3 separate regions of the Homo sapiens genome follow, and regions 1 and 3 are each linked to region 2. Evidence: fine-mapped expression QTL. A gene starts in region 2. Each other region holds a variant in brackets. All regions are shown on one strand. Distances are between the middles of the regions.

What was found. PIP is the estimated chance that this variant, and not a neighbour inherited with it, causes the effect.
Region 1: its variant is fine-mapped to the expression of CALHM6 in whole blood (TOPMed, PIP 0.99).
Region 3: its variant is fine-mapped to the expression of CALHM6 in whole blood (INTERVAL, PIP above 0.99).

What each region holds. Positions count from the first base shown.
Region 1 is chr6:116,417,556-116,425,555 of GRCh38, forward strand. All of the region lies in intron 2 of DSE (dermatan sulfate epimerase), which reads left to right. Among named protein-coding and RNA genes, the nearest start is that of CALHM6, 40 kb to the right of the region's middle. The variant C/T (reference allele first, on the strand shown) is at 4,637.
Region 2 is chr6:116,456,345-116,464,702 of GRCh38, forward strand. It overlaps CALHM6 (calcium homeostasis modulator family member 6), which reads left to right and starts at 5,031. Exons shown (of 3, transcript NM_001010919.3): 1 at 5,031-5,085; 2 at 5,528-6,110; 3 at 6,939-7,427. The coding sequence starts at 5,586. The coding sequence ends at 7,361. It overlaps CALHM6-AS1 (CALHM6 antisense RNA 1), which reads right to left and starts at 7,360. Exons shown (of 2, transcript NR_174951.1): 1 at 7,275-7,360; 2 at 4,134-4,850. It also overlaps the pseudogene KRT18P22. RefSeq lists enhancers at 5,437-5,546, 5,557-5,636 and a silencer at 6,017-6,096.
Region 3 is chr6:116,392,395-116,400,394 of GRCh38, forward strand. It overlaps DSE (dermatan sulfate epimerase), which reads left to right. Exons shown (of 6, transcript NM_013352.4): 2 at 6,804-7,272. The coding sequence starts at 6,857. Among named protein-coding and RNA genes, the nearest start is that of DSE, 25 kb to the left of the region's middle. RefSeq lists enhancers at 6,557-7,057, 7,058-7,558. The variant A/AC (reference allele first, on the strand shown) is at 4,958.

The DNA.
Region 1 (8,000 bases), 39 kb before region 2:
AATATTTGGGATATTGAATTCACAGCATTAAAATGAAATTAAGTGGTAATGTACTGCTATATTAAATCCAGTGATTTAATTAATATAGAAATATAGATTGTAAGAGGAAATAGTTTTTTACATTTCAGAGCTAATAAGTTATTTTCCCTGAAAAAGTCTTAATATACAATGAGTTCCCATTCTGTCATACCGTTCATCCTTCTAGCAATTGTTTCCAGAAAGGGCAAGTAGTTTTGTTCCCAAAGTAGATATTGAAAAAGGAAAGCTCATTGTCCATTTCTGTGTACTCTAGCCCTGGCCAGTGTCAAAGGTAAACAATACCGGACACTAAAGTGGCAAGGATAAGTTTTAATCAGTAGTAAGTATTTCAGTAGGAAAAGAGTTCAGCATAAACTGAACTGAACGTCAATTTGTACAGAGGTGAATAGGCATTTTAAAGGGAGGAGGGCAAGCAGGGGCTTAGTAGAGCCAGGAAAGAGAAAAATTACAAAGGGTAGTCAATGTACATGTGATTAGGCCAGCTAATCACACATCTGCTAAGTGGCAATTATCGAGGGTAGAATTCTATCCTCCCACAGAGACTGAAAGACAGAGACCCTATCCTCAAATGTTGACAGGAACAAACAAAATTTTTCTGGAAGCCTTGAGTTTCTTAGGCAGACACTTTCAACAGGGAGAGGGTCATCTCAGGGATATGACCTTGAGGTATTGGAAACTTGTTAGTGTTTACTCTTCATGGAATGAGGTTGAGGCCTAGCCAAGAAGGCACAGAGGAGCCTGGCTAGGGTTTGATCACGAAGAGAGTGTTTGTTACTACCTTAAGGGGCCCAAGGTTCTGAAGATGCAAACCAGAACCACCATCCCCTGGACCAACTCTACCTTAGAGTAGTACATTAGGTGTGCAGGCTCATCAGGGAGGGAAAGAGTTGTTCAGGAAATCTACATGATTGGTGTCTCATGTTCCTTGGGTGGGCCCTGAGCAACCACATGAGCACAGAATGGCAGTATCTCTTCTTCTAATGTGTGCCCCTTTTCTCAGATCTCATGCCTTGCTCTGTCTTGCTGTCATGAAAATGGCAAGGCTTAGAACCCTTGGACCCTTCTGCCTAGCTTTTGGTAGAGCCACTGACTCTGGCATGTTCTGGCTCAGTTCTTATTGCAAACTTGGTGACATTCTTTGAAAGCGCCGTTCTTCCCCTCACTAAGAAGGCAAAACCATTCTAGATTCAGATAATTCAGATAATTCTGGATTCCATTCTCAGCTTCACTGTTTAACTGTGTGGCTCTGAACAAGTAATCTCCTATCCAAATTGCTTTTTCACAACCTATAAAATGGGGACGGAATACCTAATGTTGAGTTGAGAAGATGAAATGACACAATGTACTTAGAGGCTTGGGCACATAACATGTGCTTAATTAATATGAAGTACACTCCCCTCTCCTTTCCCTCCCTGTGCATTTTGCTTCACAATGCCAGTGCTAACCTTTAGCCACCTGATCAAACACTTGGAATATGGACGCCAAGCCAGGCCAGAGATTAGCTGAACATTCCCCTTGGACTGCTGACTACCCACTCAGAGCCTCCTAGATCAAGTCTCTATCTTTCAGGCTTAATCTGGTCCTCTTGGCAGATGTCTGCCAAGACCCAATGTGCTTTACAGATGAGGCCTCAGAGGTGAGAAATCCACTTCCCTTTAGCTACATTTATAGGAATTCCATACCAAATTTAACATATTACTAACATTTAACATTCATGGTTAGTTTTCACATTTAAAATGGAGGGAAAAAAGATGAATCACTACTGCATTAGTCATGTTTTTAAAAGGAGTGGTAATACATGACTGTCTTAACTTATTGGAGTTTGTTTCCAAACACACAAAGGTGTTTGGTTGAAAGTTAAATGGTTTTCTATCAAGTTACTGTGTTCAGGAGACTTTTAGAATGAATAGAATAATTTACATTTTTAAAATAGAGTTGACCTAATTCTGGCCTATTTTAATGGTGTGCCCAAGTGCACGTGGACAGAGGTGTGGCATATGTACAGTAGACACAGCTGCAGCAAAGCTGGCAAATGGGAAGCTGGTGGTGCACTACCCTGGTACTTTTAGAGTTTGCAATTTCTAAGGAGTTCACTGTTGTGTTCTGAATGTAAATTTATAATTTTTGTAAAGCTTGTTTCATTTTAACTTAAATTTGTAGTTCCATAACTATCTACTGTATAAAATCAGATTTTAAACGCAAATCTTCTACTTTATGAATTTACGAAGTAAATATTTTATAGGTTGGTAAAACTATAGTTATTCTGAAAATGAGAAAAAGAAGATGGATCATTTTATTGGAGTTATCCTCCTTTGTTGGAAAGGTCTGACAAATCATAAAGTCTCATTTAAATACACTTTAAAAAATATGTAGATTTGCCTATACTGTGGATCAAATTGTGATCTTTGGAGCATAGCTACATATGGAAAAGCCTGCTATAAAGTTGTTAGGTTCTGAAAAGTACTAGGAAATAGGATTAATTATAAAGGGAATTATGAGTTCTATTGTTTCTAGTATTTGTTTCTTGTATACTGTTGATTAATTTAAATAAGTATGAGTGATCTCTTGGCACATCTTTGTTTTCAAAGACCTAATTTCTTTTTATTGTAAGTGTTTATTTTAGCAGTATTTGTGTAAATTAAATAGACAGTTGCTATGAACTGAATGGGACCCTCCTCAAAATTTATATTGAAGCCCTAACCCCTTATGTGGAAGTATTTAGAGAAAAGGGCCTATAGGAGAGAATTAGATTTAGATGGAGGTCCTAAAGGTGGGGCTCTCATGATAGGATAAGTGCCCTGATAAGAAGCGGTGCCAGAGAGCTTGTACTCTTGTGCACTCTCTCTCACGCTTGCCTTATCCCCACACCATACATCTAGGACAGGCCAGGTGAGCACACAGTAAGATGGCGGCGGCCTTCTAAAAGCCAGGAACAGAGCTCTCACCAAAACCTGACCATGCGGGCACCCTGATGTCAGACCTTCAGCTTCCAGAACTTGTAAAAAATAAATTTCTGTTGTTTAAGCTACCCAGTCTATGGCATTTTGTTATGGCAGCCTGGGCTAAGACAACAGTATACAAATTTAAATAATATTCTGTGAACCTTGCAATGTTAAATTTTAATCTTTTCACAGGCAGTTATTTTCTATAGACTGTCTATATCAAAACTATATGAAAATTTTAAAAATAGAAGCATTTAATCACTTGCAGTTCAAATCTATACCAATAAAAATAGATAGCAACATTGTTTTTAGGGTTCCTTTTAATGGTTATTTAATCAAATAAACTGTCACCTTTTTAGTGATACAGACTTCTTCGATTGCCAACTATTATACTCCATACATAATATTTTAAAAAGCATTTATGATAATAGAAGCAGTCTATCCCTTTAAAATTGGTACAAAAATTTGGATTAATGAGACTGCTCAACTTTGGAAAAATAGTTATGGCTCATTCTTCCTTTCAGAATCACAACTTAATTCATAGACACAGCACATCATGACCAAACTCTATGCCTTTCCCCACCAACATTCCACCCTTACACTCAGAAAATCAATAGCTCTTTCCTGTGTTCAGATTAATTTATTTCATATAAATTCACCTTTGAAAATATTCAAAGTATCAGTTTTTAAACTTTTTGGACTTGGAAGCACTTTGTACTCTTAAAAATTAATGAGGACATCAAACAGCTTTGTTTATTTGGGCTGTATCTATCAAAGTTTACCATATTAGAAATTAAAACTGAGAAGTTTGAAACATTTATTTGTTCATTTACTCATATTTATATATTGTCAAAGCTCATTTCATATTAACATAAACATATTTTAGGAAAAAATAACTATATATACATATATATATATATATATATATTTTTTTTTTTTTTTTTTTTTTTTTTTTAGGTACAGGGTCTCACTGTGTCACCCAGCCTGGAGTGCAGTGGTGCAGTCATAGCTCACTGCAGCTTTGAACTTCTGGGCTCCAGCAATCTTGCTGCCTCAGCCTCCTAAGCTGGGACTTCAGGTGCATGCCACCAGGCCCAGCTAATTTTTAAAAAATTATTTTGTGTACAGACAGTTTTGCTATGTGGAACTCCTGGGCTCAGGCAATCCTCCTACCTTGGCCTCCTAAAGCACTAGGATTACAGGCATAAGCCACTGTACCCAGCCAAACTATATTTTTTTAAAACAAAAAATAGAAGGAAGGTGTTGTTTTACATCTTTGCAAATCTTATGTGTCTGCTTCTGCACTTGATTTGTTGCTATGTGTTTTTTTGGTTGAAGTATGTGAAGAAAATCCAGCCTCACAGGAATATGTGATTGACAAGGGAGGAGTATTTTAATAATCTTTTCAAATAATTGTGAATATTCTTCTTTGACGCTACACTAAAACTTGACTGATAGTGGTTCCATAAAAATTAATTTCAGTATAGAATCTGAAGCCATGTTAATGAACTCTTCATACTCTTTTACATTAAAATCCATTGGCATATTTTACACTTAGGAGTGGCTGTCTTATCGGTGCATGGTTTTATAACATCATGCCTTTGTTATTTTGCATGTGTGTTCACTGAGTTATTTCAGTCTACCGAATGTTGACA[C/T]ATTTAATTATACAATATAAAAATCATGTTTGTTGATGTTCTTACTGATTTCATCAGAAAAATCTTTAAGTATTGGTAAGCTCTTAAGCTCTTGGTAGTGGATGCAAATTTTCCAAAATTCTTATTTCCAGTTGAAAGCTCCAAGTTTGTCATTGGCAACAAAGGCTTTCAGCTTTCCTTGAACTGGCAGGCCTTCCTTGTTTATTTTCAAGAATATTTCTGTGCTAACACCCAAATTGAGATAACTATAATTTGTCAGTTGATCATTCTGTCATGTAAAAATGTTTCATGAAAAAACCGAGCTAGCTCAGCTCTCAACTCAGTGCATGACTTCTTTTGTTTGTAACGTTCTTGTACTTTGGTACTCCGTTTAATCACATAGGATATTAGAAAGATGTATACTCAAAGAGTTGAGATTTTATAAAGATTAATCACTTTTACCACTTCATCAAGGACATTTTTAAATAAAATTGGCTTTAAAAATTAAACAACAACAACAACAAAAACCTGAGTGCATGGCAGTGCAAAATCATACAAGGACTACTAGGGCAGTTTAGTGCCCCTGCTTGGATTCTTGCTAAGGTTACAGCAGTTTTACTTAATACTGCTTTTGTACCATCAGTGCAAATATCAACATATAACATCTTTACGTTATTATGAAAATGATTCTTATTTGTGAATTCTCTAAAATGTAATAGTCTCGGAAGCCCCTCCCTGGGCCTTACTTTGAGAACAGCTGCTCTAAGGGGTGAAACTGTAGTTTACAAAAGAGGAATAGTGTAAATATTTCCTCAGTTAACCTCCTCTTAACTAACTTGCCAGTGAACCCAGCTTCCATTCCTTGTGTAACACAGTAGCTGAATGTCAGGACTTGTAGGTTGCCCTTTACTTTACATTTATTTCTTTTCCCCCCAGTAGAGTTACCGGCTGAGCAAGTGTCAGCTGTATTTGTTCTCAAACCAGGTAATACAGTTTCCCTAATACCTGTAATGAGACAGTTTTAATAATACCAATAGATAAAGTGTGAGTTCAAAAAGAAAAAGCTAATATTTCTAGAACCAACCTAAAAGCTTTGGAATAACTTACTGTAAAAAATTGCTGTCATGATATAGTGTGATTGAGATTTGTAGAAGATTAGGGAAAAACTCATAAAAATCTAGAAGGCTTCTGCGTTCCCTCACAGGTATCTTTAATTTCTTCCTATATAATAAAGAAAACAAAGCTGGAAATTGTGGTGATGTGTTATGTGTGTTCTTTGCAGGAAAGAACAATGAAACTCCATCTGTAGACCCATATTCAGAGAATAGGTTTTGGCTCACCTTCAAAAGATTGGTGAATCTGTGTACACATGGATATATTTTAAGTTGAAGCACAATTCATAAATTAATGTCTGTCTGTTTTTTTAAAAAATAATTTCCCACTTCACCACCATTCACAGTGAACTGATTTATTACTGGTCAGGATCACATTGAATAAGATAGTTTCTCAGCTGCCATCCATGAACTAAGAGCAAATTTCCATTGGTTTTTATGACTGTAAAATATAGTCTCTTCCATTATTTCACTTTGTATCTAAGGCTGGGTAAGATCGTGTTGGTGAAAGATTTAGATAACTTTTTAGAAATACAGCTATTACAGGTCAGCTTTTCTAATGATATAGGGACAGACCTGAAGGTGCCATAAACTTTTTTCTTTTGGGGCGCCAGTGTTACATTGAATTGGAAACTGTTTGAAATAAACAAACTGCAGGTTGGGGCTTGGACATTTTCACAGAAATTTGCATAACATTTCATGAAGGATGAGAATTATATCAAATGTTCTGGTTATCTATAAAAATAAGCTTATTGGTTAATCACACATGTGAGGGTTTACTGGCTGGTAGCAATTCATTGACATCAGCTTTATCATGGGTCGGTGTATATAGTGCCATTTATAGATGCATCATGACATGGTACAATGACACAAGTTGGGAAACAAATGACCTGGCTTCCCTGCCTGGCCCACCAGTCACCATGAGTCAGTGAAGATGATATTCCCAACTCCCTGGCAATGAGTGTGCAGTATGAATTGTTTTTCTCCTAGAAGTAGAGAATTCATTCACACTCTCATAGTCTGTTTACAAACAGTACACACACTGGCAAGCTGACTGGCTAGAGCAAGGGAGCTTTGTCTGTTACTAAATTGCTAAGAAACTCATCAATCTTTTTAGCACTAGTCTTTTTAGCACCAAACACCGAATGGTAACCAAATGCTGAAATTATTACTAAATATAAAGGGATCTCTCCAAATTCCTGATTCCATAATGATCACATAATCACTGCCAGCAGTGTGGCTGACAGTGAGTTACAGGTTTGTTCCTTCACTTTTTCCTTCTTTCTGAAAATATTTATTGAGCATCTGCTGTGTGCCACACTGTTCTATGATTGGGGATCCAATTGCGAATACAATAGTGAAGAAAAAAGTCCTGCCCTTGTAGAACTTAAATTCTAGGAGGGGAAACATATACATAGACATATTCATACATATATTTACTAAAGGGAAAAAAGAAAAGGGGAATTAAATATTATTTTGGGAGGATGATGAAATTCTGATAGGGTGACCAGGGAAGGCCTCACCTAGGCCATTTCTTTAGCATAAACTTCTAAAGGAAAAACATAATCTGGAAGAGGTAGTCTCTCAGAACATTTTAAAGTATTTGTAAACTGAGGTCTATGAGGTTTGTTTGAGAGAACTAATACATCTTAACTTTTACTAACTTTAACTGAAATCCAACATTTCTTCCAATCATGAGTAGAGATAACCAATCTTGATGGTATTGGGAGGATCTGTAACAAAGTTACAGGTAGGTATCACAGATATTTTCATTACCACATTACAGTTGTTATAGACATCTCAAAAATTATGCTTATTACCACTTACAAATTATAGTAGTTATTATCCCTGCTATTAAATGTTGGTATTTCATGCCTTAATTTAAAAAAGCCTGTATTATTATTTTTTAAATATGTGTATTGATAATTATATTTCAAAATAATAGATTTCCATGTATCCTTACATATTATGTCTTACGAATTTTAAAACATTTTGAGAAAGAGGTCAAGGCTTCACTAGATTGCCAAAAGAGGTTCATGGCATAGAAATGTTAAGCTTTAGCTTCATCCCTAATTGCTTTCTTCTACCTCCCACAGGTACAGCACACTTTTGATTTGTTTCCCTCACTTGGAGATTACTCAAATACATCCTGAACAGATGGGAAGGGTTTTCTGGTTAATTCCTTAGAATTCTGATTGTGAAAGATCCTTTGTTTGCTTCCTGCTTAATGCAAGCCACACACTAATTTGCAGAATAATATAGCTAGTCAAACA
Region 2 (8,358 bases):
ACGGGATTCTCTCTGAGCCTACTCTGGCTCAAGAGGCTACCAGATTCATGAATCATTCTTTGCTCAATTAAACTCTGTTAGATTTAATTTGGCTATGTTTTTTCTTTTAACAGAGTTAAAATAACTATCTGCTGCAAGAACAAAAATTAGTGTGTTAATCAATAAGTACTTAAACTTTTGTGATAGGCTTAGGAAATTCACACTAAGAGAGGAATAAAAATCTTTAAAAGGCTTTTTTGAAATGTCATGGGATTGCCATTTAACAAATGACATCTCTGTGCCAAGGAAAGGGTCTGATCTTTCCCTCCTTCTGCTTTACACTTCCATTGGAAAAAACTTTTATAAACGTTTAAAATATCTGAAGACAACAGCATGTTCCAGATTTTCAAATATGTTATCTAACATGAGCAATATATCCACAAATTTTAACATTCAGAAAGATATTCCCTTTAAGACTAGGAGTGTCAGATTTTGTAAACTAACTTTTTAATTTGGCATCTGGCATTTCTTCTTGCATATGTTACCTAAGATATTTGAATATTAATTTGATTTTACTCTTTTTGGAGGGTCTTGGGGCCAAGATTAATGTTGTATAAGAATCCAGCAGTCATATTCCAAGCAGGGTCATGCCATTAGTCTGTATTCTTATGAGAGCCGCAGAGAACAATGTTTGAGAACTAGCACACATGAAGACAATTGCAAGACACTTTCAGATTCACAGTGTGTATGTGCATTTCCTTTCAAGAAGTTCCTTTTCCAAGAAATGTTCTGTGGTTTCTGAAACCCATTCCTGACATTGAAAATGATAGTGCTGAAAAAGTACTACAGTTAAAGGAAACCAAAGGGAACCCATAACCATTGGCTTTACACTGTGCTTAATGTGAGACTCTACTACTCATTTCTTTTTATTTTTTATTTTTGACCTCTGAACTTTTTATTGGCCTCCTGCTCCTCGAAGGGTCCCCTACTTCTGCTGGCTTAATGTCTCAGAACTTTGGTGTCATTGGTCTCAGACACCACTTCGCCATCCACTATTGGGCGGGTGGTGTCTTTTGGATGGTTTGCATGGAGTTGCTGTTGTCCAGGGCATCACCAAGATTGAAGTCCTCGCCATCTTCCAGCAGGCATTGGTAGGTGGCAATCTGAGTCTCCAGCTTGACTTTGATGTCCAGCAGGGCCTCGTACTGCTGGGCCTAGTGCTGTCCCTCTGCCTGGGTCTGTGCCAGCTCTGACTCCAGGTGCAGCAGGATCCCATTGAGCTGTTCCATCTGCAGGGCATAGCAGGCCTCCACCTCCCTCAGGCTGCTTTCCAAGCGGCCTTCAGATTTCTCATGGAGTCCAGGTCGATCTCCAAGGAATGGATTGTACATCTCAGCTCTGTGAGCGTCATCTCAGCAGCTCCAACCTCGGTGGACTGAGTGGTGGCCACTGTGGTGCTCACCTCAATCTGCTGAGACCAGTACTTGTCCAGCTCCTCTTAGTTCTTCCGAGCCAGCTCGTCATATTGGGCCCAGATGTCTTCCATGATCTTGGCAAGGTCCTGAGATTTGGGGGCATCTACCTCCACGGTCAGCCCAGAGCTGGCAGTCTGGGCTTGTAGGCCTTTACTTCCTCTTCATGGTTCTTCATGAAGAGCAGCTGCTTTTTGAGAGCCTCGATCTCTGTCTCCAGCTGCAGCCGAGTGACATTGGTGTCATCAATGACCTTGTGGACCCCATGGATGTCGCTCTCCACAGACTGGCACATGGGCAGCTCTGTCTCATACTTGACACTGAAGTCATCAGCAGCAAAACAGGCATTGATTTGCAGAACGATGCGGGCATTGTCCACAGTATTTGTGAAGATCTGAGCCCTCAGGTCCTGATGGTCATGAAGTAATGGCTCCAGTCTCTGGCCTGGGGTCCCTTCTTCCCCAGGTGCTCCCGGATTTTGCTCTCCAGCTTCCAGTTCTCGGTCTCCAGGCTCCTCACTCTGTCCAGGTAGGAGGCCAGACAGTCGTTCAGGCTTTGCATGGTCTCCTTCTCATTCTGGATGCCTGCTATCCCTGCCAGACCCCTGGCCATCCCTGCAGCCAGGCCCCCGGATCCCATGCCGCCCCAGAAGCTGGTGGAGCGGGACACAGAGATCCGGGAACCAGAGTCCTGGGTGCCTGCATAGACACTGGCTGCACTGCTGACCAGCTGGGCGATGAAGCTGGGTGTCTGGACAGAGCCCAGGGAATGGTAGTTGGTGGAGAAGGTGGAGCAAGTGGTGAAGCTCATACTGTCCAGGGAGGAGAGCAAGAGGACAGGACTCAGGCTTTACCGATGACATTCTACTACTCATTTCTTAACAGCTGAAGCAAATCACAGGCTTTCAAAAGTGTAAAGACATTTAAAATATTATTTAGTCTACCTCTCCACACCATTAGGGTGTTAGTCAATTTCCACTAAGGGCTGAACTTCTGAGCAATATCCTCTCAGAACAGACCTGGGTATGGAGGGCTGGGAATCTTCAATAGACCCAGAGCTAGAACCAGTCAATCCAGTGGTGGTGGGAGTGGATGGCAGGGTACTAGACTCAAGACCAAGTGCTGGGGAAACATTCAGGCTGGCAGGCAAAACCTGGACTCTCAATTATAGAAACCTGTACTAAGTTCTGAATGATCATTGCATCTGGGAGAGTTGGGTTTGGGAGAGCACAGAAGTAGCAAACCCAGGAGGTGGTGTTTAGAGACACAAGCTGACAAGACAATATGTCAGGATGCAGCTCAGTCTGTGAAAGTTTCAGAGGCAGAATTGCAGACTACATATTCTGGTCTGTGAAGCACCTAAACCTGACCTTCCACTTGCAGCTTTGGCCTCATGATGTGCCAACTTGCCTGTCATTCTCAATGCTCCCATCACTCTAGCCTTCTTTCTAACCAAGCTCCTTTGTACTCCAGACTCATTCAGATTAAATGTCAGTTTCTCACAGAGGCTCTTTCAGGACACTCTCTAACTCCAATTTATCCTGTGCGTAATCTTTAGGACCCCTCCTCTCCATTTCCTATATCATCTCTACTGTAAGTTCAAAGACGGCAGGATACCTGTGTCTTCTTCCTTGTTGTATCCAGCAATACCAGGCACTTTTGATAGGTACTTGACATATTCTGAGTACTTATTAAACATTTAAATGAATGACTGAATGAACAAATGAACTAATTAATAACTGGTTAACAAATGAATTAATCTAGTTGGGGAAGGGGGCTGATAGATAAAAGTTTCTGTAAGTAAACATATTTCAAACAAATCCTTGACTAAATAACAGAAGCCAGGGAAGAGAAGGTGATGGACTTCATTAGAGTCTTAAAAAATGAAGGGAATGAAAACAGACCATAGGAATGAGGTGAAGGAGGAGATGGTGCTGATTAGATTGAGCCTCAGTGGATGATAAACTATTATAGCACAGTGGTAAAACCCTGGTATGGCTATCAGCAGGTAACCAGGAAAATGCCAGCCATCCCTCTTGGTTTGAGAGATGTGGGAGAATAAATTAATCTCACTCAAGAAGACAGAAGGATGCATTTTTATTAGGTTTCGGTTAGGGGAGATTTGGATAAAGCCATCTGCACAAAGGTTGTGGATATAGTGATGTTTCTGCATGATGGAATATGGGAAAGGGTGGACGAGAGAGGACACATCTTAGAGTATTATGGTAGAGGTGAAGAAGAGTCCAGCAGTAAGAGGAGAGTTACTCAAGGCACAGGGGAAGAAATTTATCTTGGGAGATGACAAATTACAAAGATAACAGTCAGAGCAGAAGTGATTCGCTTCAAACACGCAACTTTGCTGCAAGTTGACAGGAAGCCTAGCAGTATCTGGTCTAATCTCAGAGAAGAGGGCCCCAACTTTCCTGCATGACCATGAAGACCCTCATCTGGGGCTGGCCCCTAAACACATAGAAAAAAGATGTCTATTTACCACATCACTATGGAATGACAGCTTTTGGCACTACGCTAGGCACCCTGCTGGTGGTGTTGGAGAGGGAGTAGTTAAGAAGGCAAGTTGGACTAAGAAAAGAATAATACATTTCTTGTCCATTCTCTAAAAATTCACTTGGTTCCATGGGCTACCTATTCTTTCCAGATAAAATAAGGCAAGCCTGGTGGATGGGCACCAATAAGAACCATTTCATTGTGAACTGCCCACCCAAGCTCCATATCCAGATACTCTCCTTGTGGTGAAGCAGACAGCTAAGGTGTACACCAATTCTCTTAAGGTAGCAGAGTCATTGAGTCACTTAATACTATCCACTGAATTGATCCTCGTTTAAAATTCAAAATTCAGTATTCATCAAGATTCTTAGGTTATGTACAATGTAATTATTTGTTGTCTATTCCCCAAATTGCATTTTAAGGGGAAAACTCTCACACTGATCATTCATTTAACAGACATATCCTATATGTAAAGGCACTTTACATATGCTACTCAATCTACTCATGTCAGTAATCTTGAAAAGTGGGCACTATTATCCTTCTTTTACAAATAAGGATGCTGTGTCTCAGAGGGGCATACTTGTTAAACACACCACAGACAAGATGCACTTGACTTCAAAGCCCATGTTCTTTCAAGCACACCTCAGCTCAGTCTGGAGTCACACAGAGTAAGGCTCAATATCACAAAAGTGGTTACAGTGTTTGTGTCAGAACAACGCTGCTTGAGAAAACTGAAGGTGGAGGAAACAACATTAGATAGATGTAGCTGCAGTTTGAAATTTTGGGTTCAACTAGCATTCTTTGAATAATCATGTATCCCCTTCTGTGCAGATCAGCTTGGTGGTCAGAGTCAGAATTTTACTCTCCTCCAGGCATTGACAGTGTTATGACATATCTGAAAGAAAAGAACATTGTATTGACGAGTAAATCAATACAGTATATTTGGTCTAATGTCCTGAAGGAGATCAGGCAGAGGAGAGAAGAGTCAGTGTGAACTAGGCTGGTGGCTCTGTCCGGTAGGGAGATGGAAAGGGTGCCGCCCATCATAGAAGTACCAGAACTTGAGCTGGACTTTGCTGATTTAGCTTATGGAAGAGGAACCAGAAATTTGTCCTTGAATAATGTTTCCCGTAAGTAATCAGTTTTTTGATAATTATTTGGTTTTACTGTGATCTGGCTTAGTAACTAGGGTGGCTGCAATAGAGGAAAATCTGGTATTTCCCAGTTTTTCCAACTGGCGGCCGTGGGTCAAGAAGGTTAGTTTCCTGGTTCGTTGTCAGATTGGTGGTAATAAAGGAACAAGGTCAACCTTCTGTCAGAGTTCCTGAATTGGGGGAGGAAGATAACTGGTGCCTCTGCCTTTGGAATGGGGTGGGTGCCAGAGAAGTCAAGGTCCTGGGGGTGTTTGCTTGCCTGGTTCTGTTAACCAGAGGTGGTGTGGCTGAAATGAGAAAGTGAAACTTTAGGAAGGTCTGAGAAGCCCTCTTCCCTTTAAAAAAAAAAAAAAAAAGGCTGCTTCTCGCAGAGTGGAAAGCCCCGGTCCCCATCCCACCAAAACCATTTGACAAGCAGGACAACGAAGAGGCAGAAGGATCTGGGCCTGTGCGCGACGCCCCGGGGGACGAGGCTCATGGAGAAGTTTCGGGCGGTGCTGGACCTGCACGTCAAGCACCACAGCGCCTTGGGCTACGGCCTGGTGACCCTGCTGACGGCGGGCGGGGAGCGCATCTTCTCCGCCGTGGCATTCCAGTGCCCGTGCAGCGCCGCCTGGAACCTGCCCTACGGCCTGGTCTTCTTGCTGGTGCCGGCGCTCGCGCTCTTCCTCCTGGGCTACGTGCTGAGCGCACGCACGTGGCGCCTGCTCACCGGATGCTGCTCCAGCGCCCGCGCGAGTTGCGGATCGGCGCTGCGCGGCTCCCTGGTGTGCACGCAAATCAGCGCGGCCGCCGCGCTCGCGCCCCTCACCTGGGTGGCCGTGGCGCTGCTCGGGGGCGCCTTTTACGAGTGCGCGGCCACCGGGAGCGCGGCCTTCGCGCAGCGCCTGTGCCTCGGCCGCAACCGCAGCTGCGCCGCGGAGCTGCCGCTGGTGCCGTGCAACCAGGCCAAGGCGTCGGACGTGCAGGACCTCCTGAAGGATCTGAAGGCTCAGTCGCAGGTCTGCCGCTGGCGCTGGGGGCGTTTGGGAGGAGCCGAGAGGCCGAGCTTTCTCAGGGCCGCTGGGGTGAGGGAAAAATCGGTGACTTTTCTCCAGATATACAGTACCCTAAGAAAATCTAGAATGGCTCCTTGCATCTAATTTGCCGTCAAGAGAATATCTGAATAAAACGAATGAAAAGGAGAAAAACGCATTCCCGTAGTATCTGGCACTGTACATGAATCGTGGAAAGTGGGAGTGAGAGTGGGCACGCCTACTCAGTGCCAGATACTGCGCTAGGCCCTTGACCTCCTGCATTATTTTTACGTCTCACAACAGCTCTGTTGGGTGCAAAATTGCGGTTTTGCCATTACAAGTAATAGTTTCGTATCTCCCCTATATAGTGACTTCACTGAGTCTAAGTAAAGTTGTTTGCCCAGCCAATAGAAAGCAGAATTGTTAGAATTAAAGGGGTCTATAGAATAAAATGGGTTTGTCTGGCTCTAAAGCCACCACTGGACTTAGAAAGCTCAGAGGTTCTTTAAAATGAACACTTCTTTCCCAGGATTTGCAGAAATTCCACATTTTGAGTTCTAAGGGAATGGTATGGGCTCCTCCCTGGGCAGAATCATAGTGCATAACTTGGACTACAGTTGACTTTCCAAACGAGAAGTTGTACTGGGGGGCTAGGGAGGTTACTGCGACACCTTACTCTTAAGGAATTAAGACCTAAAACTGTTGCTTGTTCATCATCATAACTGGCGAGTAGTTGAAACTTTATCTGAGGATTTTTAAATTTCTTGTAAAAAACCAAGTAACTAAATTACTATTTTGTTGTGTTTTCTTAAGGTGTTGGGCTGGATCTTGATAGCAGTTGTTATCATCATTCTTCTGATTTTTACATCTGTCACCCGATGCCTATCTCCAGTTAGTTTTCTGCAGCTGAAATTCTGGAAAATCTATTTGGAACAGGAGCAGCAGATCCTTAAAAGTAAAGCCACAGAGCATGCAACTGAATTGGCAAAAGAGAATATTAAATGTTTCTTTGAGGGCTCGCATCCAAAAGAATATAACACTCCAAGCATGAAAGAGTGGCAGCAAATTTCATCACTGTATACTTTCAATCCGAAGGGCCAGTACTACAGCATGTTGCACAAATATGTCAACAGAAAAGAGAAGACTCACAGTATCAGGTCTACTGAAGGAGATACGGTGATTCCTGTTCTTGGCTTTGTAGATTCATCTGGTATAAACAGCACTCCTGAGTTATGACCTTTTGAATGAGTAGAAAAAAAAATTGTTTTGAATTATTGCTTTATTAAAAAATAAACATTGGTATTTTTTGAGTGCTTTTTTTCTTCCAAATTGTGGAATTTTATATCTGAAATTAAAATATAGAGCTTAACCTCTTTATAATATTATTTAAAACAAACAAAAAAAGAAAGTGATTCATCCAAAGTAAAAGCTAGAACTAAAAGAAGTCTTATATCCTTGTTCTAGAGTCCTTTTCAAATAAAAGACTTTTGGAGCAAAAACAGTGGCAGAACAATTGAACTTCAGACATTTCTGTTAGGTTATCTGATGTTAATTTCAAGTTCATTTTCTTGCCCACAACATCTTGTTAGGAACTTTAAAATTACGGCATTCTAGCTGGTTCTATAGCACAATTGATGGCACATTGGGCTTCTAGTCGAGCCTGCTGTGGTCATTCAAAAATTAGAGCATTTTATGACTCTAATAGGGTTACAATAATAAATTAATCATGAAAAGGAAAATAAACTTTGTAAAATACGAAATTTGAAAAAGTAGTTAAGAGAATTGCAGGCAACAAGTGTTGTTTTTAGTTTATAGGATCAGAGGAAAAGTGTTAAAGCTTATATGTTATGGTAAATATAAACTAAACACAAAAGTAGAGAGGATAGTTTTATGAGCCTCCAAGTAGTTGTTACACAGCTTCAACAGAGTTGGGAAGTCAGATAAAACCAATACCAAACAAATAAATGCAAATTGTGACCTGATTTAGATTAGGGGAGAAGGGATTTGGGGAAGCTTTTTAAAAACTGAATCCTGTAGGGTAGCAAGAAGGAGCATTTCAGTCATACAGATAAAACCAATACCATACAAAGAAATGCAAATTGTGACCTGATTTAGATTAGGGGAGAAGGGATTTGAGGAAACTTTTTGAAAACTGAATCCTGTAGGGTAGCAAGAAGGAGCATTTCAGTCCTACTGAAGGAACAGTATGTGCAAAGACTAGGGAGAAAAAGAT
Region 3 (8,000 bases), 64 kb before region 2:
TCAATCTTGCCATGGATATGGGCACACTGGTTCTAGTGTGGGGGATTATTCCTAATCATGTAACTAACTATGGGGCCCATCCATTAAGTTGAGCAAACTGGAGCAGCTGCTCTTAGGCTGAGCTTGGCGGGTGTGGTGGCAGGAGCTATAGGGGATGTACATTTCACTCTTGTTTTCTAAATATGATTACAACTCAGTTTTTAAAATTTTGTCTTTAATGATACCCCCAAGGACATCTGTGACAGCTGCTGGCAATTTCAGCAGCCTCCTTCAAATGAAGTTATGGTAGCGATCTTAACTGGTCAAGTTGCCCCAAGTTCAGGGCCTTTCCCATTGCCTTTGTTCTGATTCTTTACTTGTTCACCAGACAGTTATCTAATAATTCACTTCCTGTGTTGGTTTCCTGTGAAGTCAGAAAATATTTCCCAATCTGCTTGACGGTAAACGAATATGCTGACATTCTGGTTTTTCATATGTGAGAGGTAGGGAAGCCTAACATTAAGTAGCATCTCATCTCCAGGATGATCAGCTGAGATACTGATGGCAGTGATGGAGCCAGGACCAGACCCTGTACTGAGGTTAACCTATCCGCCTTGCAGTGGCAGCAGGTGTCCCCTAAATTTTAATGTACTCCTTCCGTAATATAAATGTGTTACTAAGAAACAGCTTTCCAGCCAGGGACTGTGTTTCCCAGTCGCTGTTAGATCGGCAGGCCTTTCTCCTGACAGAATAAAGGAGAAAAAAGAAGTGGTCGCCTTTTGTATATGAAGAATTAAATTACTGACCCTAGGAAGAAAATTTAGTTAATAGCTCATTTAATCTATTATTCTTTTCTTTGGGGCAAAACCTCTAACAAACACTTGAAAAATTTAAAGGGTCGTATACTTTCCTTTCCAGTGAGTGATGAGCTTACTATGAGTGATGTGTTGAAGAGTGAGAAGCATTGTGTTCCAATTTCAACTAAGTCTCTAATAAGCAGTATGATCTGGCCCTAGTCAGTTAACATCTATAGTTCTTATATTTTTACCTGTAAAGTATGAAGATTTAGTTTCTTTCAAATAAAATATTTTATCAATAGGTTAGTATAATCTTGCAGGTCTGAAACATCTTCCTTTTTATAAATATTATTGAGCTCTTCATGTCATGTTCTATGCTAAGTGCATCACACATGTCTAATCACCCCATGAAGCATATTTCATTTTGTGGATGACAGAAGGGAGGTTTTGAGAGTGGACGTCAGTTGATCAAAGCTAGGAGGCAGCAGAGCTGAGATTTATGCTCTTGTCTGCCCAACTCCATGCCCCATACTGTTAATCATTATGTTGTGTTCCTCAAATTTGGCACATATTATAAGAGGGTTTTTTAATCCATCTTAGTTTGGGGCATGTTTTACTCTCTACAGGGTGATTTCTTTCTCCCATCCTTATACTTTCTCTGTTTTCTGAAGCCTGTGGAATTGAAAGAACTTTTGTACTACCATTTGTTTCATTCTATAAACAGTCCCAGATCATTTGAAACCCAAATCTTTTTTGAAACTTGATGTACTAGTTTAGTGTTCAGTTTTTTCTTCTCAGCATATTCTTCTGTGCTTTCTTTGTGTAAGGATGGCAAAAAAATGGAACTTTTAATGTTATTGAACATTCTCACAAATTAGTTTGGTTAAAGGAAAGAATCTTGGCTTAGGATTTAGGAGGTGCAAGTTCTAGTTCTTTCTCTGAAATTTATTGTGGAACAAATAATACTATTTTGCTATATTAAGTTATTGAAGAGTAAAAGATCAAATATGTGAAAAGCATTTAGGATCACAGAAACGAAGTTTTTCTGTGTGACTGCTGAATCATAATAGCTGCAGTGGATTGTTGGAACCAGAATTACAGCAAAATAATTTGGGGCCTATCTTTGCTTTATAAAGATCTGCTTAAGGTAATTGTAATTCATAATTCACGTGGCTTGGCCTACACGTAATGCTAAACTTGGACTGCTGAATATATACAGGCAGAGAGATGATCAAATTGCTATCTGAATTATAGCAGTAACAGCGTGATTTTTTTTTTTTTTAAAGACAAGGTCTCACTGTGTCACCCAGGCTAGAGTGCAGTGGCACAATTATAGCTCACTGCAGCGTCGAACTCCTGAGCTCAAGCAATCCTCCTGCCTCAGCCTCCCGAGTAGCTGGAACTACAGGCACATGCCACCACATCTGGCTAATTTTTTTATTATTTTATTTTATTTTTGTGGATATGGAGTCTCACTATGTTGACCAGGCTGGTCTCAAACTCCTGACCTCAACTGATCCTCCTACCTCATAGATTTAAGAATGTTTTACTATCCAAGTTGTGTGACATAAGACAAATGAATGGGAAGAAAAAGTGGATCATGAAAGTTGTAGAGTTAAAAGAGGAAAAAGAGAATTTCAGGGGACATGATGCTCAATGGAATCATTCAGAAACAGCCTGAGAATTGAGTTGTAGATAAAGTACTTATTAGTAGCATCAGCTGCTGAGAGTCGCTGGTAATTTTGCCATGTTGAAAATGCTATGCTCTTGAACTGGGCGAAGTGCAACTTAAAGATTTAAAGGGCCTGGGAGTGCTCTGCTGTTTTTGAAACACAATGAAGTAGGGGGTGAATAGCTTGAGAGATCATGCACAAACATCTTGAAGTTCAGACTTATTTCTCCAGGACAGAAGGCACATTTTGAGATAGTGTGTGTGTTTGTGTTTGTTTCATAGTGTTGAAAGTGGGAGGGTTGGCTGGGCGCGGTGGCGCACGCCTGTAATCCCAGCACTTTGGGAGGCCGAGGCGGGTGGATCACGAGGTCAAGAGAGCGAGACCATCCTGGCTAACAGGGTGAAACCCCATCTCTACTAAAAATACAAAATATTAGCTGGGCATGGTGGTGGGTGCCTGTAGTCCCAGCTACTGGGGAGGCTGAGGCAGGAGAATGGCGTGAACCCAGGAGGCAGAGCTTGCAGTGAGCCGAGATCGGGCCACTGCACTCCAGCCTGGGCGACAGAGCGAGACTCCGTCTAAAAAATAAAGAAAGTGGGAGGGTTGGGGCTGACCATTCCCATAAACTCATTAGCTTTTAATGCCCTTTGTTTCGGTAAGCATTTTTGGCATCTCTCAAACTATAGTTATTCAGGTACCACCTTCAACAATTTTTGCCATATCCATTTACTTTTTTTTTACTTTTAAATTTAAATATATTTTAAACAGGAGTTTTGCATATCTGTAGAAATCTCAGGTTTGATGTGGTATAGTTTTTCATAATGCACATTAAAATAAGTACGTAAAATTAACGTAAAGCCTGTCCATTTTTGGTCCACCTAAAATTATCTTGAAACACTCTTTTCATTTAATTTTGGCTCTTCTCTTTGTACAATGAGCACACACAATGTCTAGAGTGGAAGGTCAAAGAGAAAACTCAATGACTGGAAATAGAGATTTTTCAGTGAAATTTTCTAGACAGATTTAAAATGATGGGTGGGTATTACTTCCTCTTTTAGGTTATCAGCCTAAAACAAGTTTGGTTTAGATTTTAGTTAGATTTAATTTCTTTTCTTTTTAAACTAGTGGATAGTTTTTAGGCTACATAAGTTTCTAGGCTTCATACGTGTTTTCTCCCATTAGTTTCCTAGAGGGACTTTTTTTCTGGAAAGTTCCACACTTTCCTTGGCTTCAAATAAGGGGGAACAAAGTTTCTCCATGCTTATTTTATTGATGAGGTCTGCTCTACCAACAGCTAAGCCCAGGGATTTGGTTCAGCACAGCCAGCATGCTGCCTTTTAAAAGCCAGATTCAGTGCTAAGCTCCATGATACATAGAGGAAGAAGGTTCTCACCTTCTGTGAGGCATTGCATGTAAACAACCGAAACAGTCCGGTGTGATATAGGTATGTGCCAGATACAAGAGAGATCAACTCTTTGGGTGAATCAACAAAAGCCTTAATAGCTGGGAGAGCACTGGGGGCTGAGCACACTGAGTGGGGCATGGGGAAGGTAGTACACCATTTGTGGTATTGAGAATGCCACGGTTCTTTCTCCTCAGTCTTCATAGATGATTGTTCTGCAGAATCTCTATGGGTTCTGCATTGGCTAACGTGGTGTTCTGACGGAAATTAATATTTTAAATGTACAGTAATGCACAACCTTGCTGCTCTGACTCCCTTGCACGAATTCAAAGTAATAGCTAGAGAACCTTCAATAACAGTTGGCATGTTGAGATGGCATCCTTCCCAAAACAACATCTTAATGAGGTTCTATGCTTCAGGATCAGCTTTTCTGGTTTAAATATATTCAGACATATCCTACGTAACTGGAAGCAATGTGGCAGAAGTGGCAGGGGTCACATTGTGAGTTTTGCTGAGTTAGGCATGTAGGCCCCACAGTGTGAGGGACTCTTCGGAGCAGTCCTGAATATACAGTGATTCTGTGCCTGGGTGGGAGTGTGGTTGCATAGGGGAGGACAAAGAACATGATGAATTAACCTTACCCACGTTTGGGGAAGTTTGTACAGAATGTGAGATGGAAAAATTCTAGTTTCCATGTATTAATGCCTTCTTACCCATATGCTCATAGCTGGAGCCACTCCCCTATCCACCTGAGCTCCCACACATTCAAAAGCTGGTAGTTGAGGGATCTTTCACTGCATGTACGTTGGGTGTGTGTATGGGGGTTCAGTTAAAGGAGAAAGTGTCTAAAACCCCCACAATGCTGATTGCATTGATGAGAGCATTCAGACTTAGACTTTTAGGGACTTAATATATACAGGATTTTTTTTTAATCGTTAGCGGTATATTATTCTCTTTCTTTCTTTTTTTTTTTTTTTTTTTTGAGATAGAGTTTCTCTCTGTCACCCAGCCTGGAGTGCAGTGGTGGATCTTGGCTCACTGCAACCTCCGCCTCCCAGGTTCAAGCGATTCCTGCCTCAACCTCCCGAGTAGATGGGAATACAGGC[A/AC]CCCCCCACCACACCTGGCTAATTTTTGTATTTTTAGTAGAGATGGGGTTTCGCCATTTTGGCCAGGATGGTCTTCAACTCCTGACCTCAAGGGGCCCGCCCGCCTCCGCCTCCCAAAGTCCTGGGATTACAGGCATGAGCCACCGTGCCTGGCCGGTATATTGTTCTCTAAATGGAGCAAGGAATAAGCCCCTGGGGGGACTGAGCATTACCTCAGACCCAGCCATTTCTGTGTGCTGCCAGAGACCACACCCCTCCTCAGGCATAACCACAGAAGACTATTTCTTTTGGCTGGGTCTCTGACCTTGAAGGATCCAGCCTGCCAGCTGCCTTGAGACTTTGGGTGCTAGACATAATACTGGCAGAGTCCAAGAGTTATTTCTATTTCATATGTTTTATTTAGTATGGCTATATTAATTTTTTATTCATCAGAAGTTCTGCTGTTGAAATAAATGTAAAATGTTTTACAAAACCAAAACCACTGCCATCGAGTTTCATATATAGGTAGAAATATAAAAAACTCCAGAATAAGGTAGCACCCTCAAATGATGTCTCATTGCCTTTTTCTTGGAAACACACACAGCAAGTTGAAAATGTGGATTGATCTGCCATATCTGTTAAATTATTAGTTTTTCTTCTTCTAAATATGATGAGGCAGTTTTTCCTTGGAAAAACAGTTTGTGTTCAGCTTGGGAGGTTGATTTTCCACCATCAGTTTCTCCCTTTAATAATTGAAAACCACTGTTCGTTATTTACATAAAACTGTCTTTTTCTGGTCTGCTTTCTATAACCTTTCCCCTCTTAAGAATTTTAAGAATTCCCTGACTTTCCTCTGAGGGATTTTCTGCCTGCTTTATCCCAGATGTGGGACATTGACTAGGCTGAGGTTTTGGGGATTTTATTTTATTTTTTTTAGTGTTTCTACATTTGAAAGATGTTCTTTTAACCAGTGCACAAATCTGCCACTGAAAAAAGGGGCTTTGAAGAAAAATCAAGTAGTTAAGAAAATATGTGAACTTTGTTTACATTTCTCACTTACTGAATGACACCAAAATCCCATATGCCAAATGAAAAAGTAGACAGTAGTTTCAGATAATAAGGGGAAAATGCACCCGTGTTATTTCAGCCTTTTAATTCTGGGATTTTATTCTCTGAATGAAGGCATGTCAGTTTCTGGTCCCAGTGGCACTGTGTTTGGTCTTCACTACATGCTTGCTGATGTCAGCCCAGGAAATACACGGGCTTGGCAGATGTTTACATGGCCTTTGTCTTCTCTCTTTCCACCTTCTGCTCACATAAAGAGGATATTTAACCTTATTCATAATATTTTGTCTGCTTACAGATGTATTGATCCTAATCCCTGGTTCAGAAATGTTAGGAAAAGGAGATAAGTTACAGTGAAAGAGGCTGTAGTAAGAAATACAGGATTTTCTGGTTTTTTGTAATGTCTACTCAGATTCCCAGATGATTGTTCATTACCAGCTTTTGGTTATTGTGGTTTATGTATTAATGTCTAAAAAAATATACCATGTGATGTTTTTTGCATGATACTATGTGAGAAGAATACCAAGAATAATTTTTTCCTTACTTGAACAAATATTATACATTTTCCCTTAGTCCAAAATTCTGTTTTCCATAATGAATACAATTCTGATGTAGTATGTTTAACTCTATAAAATCAGAACTTTAGTAATTTTCTTCCTAATTAAATTTTTTTGTTGTATTTTTAAAAATCTAAATTCATAAGCTTTATTTTCACATATGGTTTCTACCTCTTATATGTTTCCACACCTGTGCCATGTTCCCTTGGCTGACAGACACTTTTTTTCCTTTTTATCTCACGTAGGATCTTTCGAAGATGGTTTGGCTGCCTTGGAGATTTGGAGATCTGATGCCACGATGAGGACTCACACACGGGGGGCTCCCAGTGTGTTTTTCATATATTTGCTTTGCTTTGTGTCAGCCTACATCACCGACGAGAACCCAGAAGTTATGATTCCCTTCACCAATGCCAACTACGACAGCCATCCCATGCTGTACTTCTCCAGGGCAGAAGTGGCGGAGCTGCAGCTCAGGGCTGCCAGCTCGCACGAGCACATTGCAGCCCGCCTCACGGAGGCTGTGCACACGATGCTGTCCAGCCCCTTGGAATACCTCCCTCCCTGGGATCCCAAGGACTACAGTGCCCGCTGGAATGAAATTTTTGGAAACAACTTGGGTGCCTTGGCAATGTTCTGTGTGCTGTATCCTGAGAACATTGAAGCCCGAGACATGGCCAAAGACTACATGGAGAGGATGGCAGCGCAGCCTAGTTGGTAGATTTTTGTCTTGTTCTTCTTACTGTGGTAACTCTGCATTAGAAAGAAACAAATCCATATGACATCTCAGTGGCCAGATCTTCATGTACCTCTTTGTGTATGTGTGTGGGGGGAGGTGTTATTTGTTATTTGTGTTGCCAGTCTTATGAATGGCCCTTAGTTTCAAAAGATGTAGTAACTTCCATGTTTAAAGTTAGAAGGAAAATATTTAGATGCAGCCTAATCTAAAGAAAAAATAATTTGCTGAATTGAGTAAAGAGTATCATCGTGATTGCTGAGAATTCTTTCTTCCATATTCAGCATGTATATATTACTATCATCTGGTGTTAGGTTTGATTGATCCCAAGTAGTTAAAACATTTTGCAGCAAGACATTTCAAGTAATTAAGACTTACTTGCATTTTATGATCGTAAGGAACTAAATGTGAATGGGATGGGACTGACTGGCAATTTATAAACACATCCCCTCCAATAACCAGCAGATTTCTGAGACCTGTAGGAAAACCAACATTATTGTGTAATTGTGTGAGGAATTCTAACTACATAATAATTTAGTTTCGAAGTTTAAGATTTGAGAACAAATTCCTGTCTTTTCGATTAGCTTAAATTTATTTGATTAATTTATAATTAATGCTTCATATGCTTCCAAACAGATATGGGATGAGTTGATTAAACAAGGGATTCTACAGATGTTTTTACTCATGCAATTTTTAAATACACATTTAT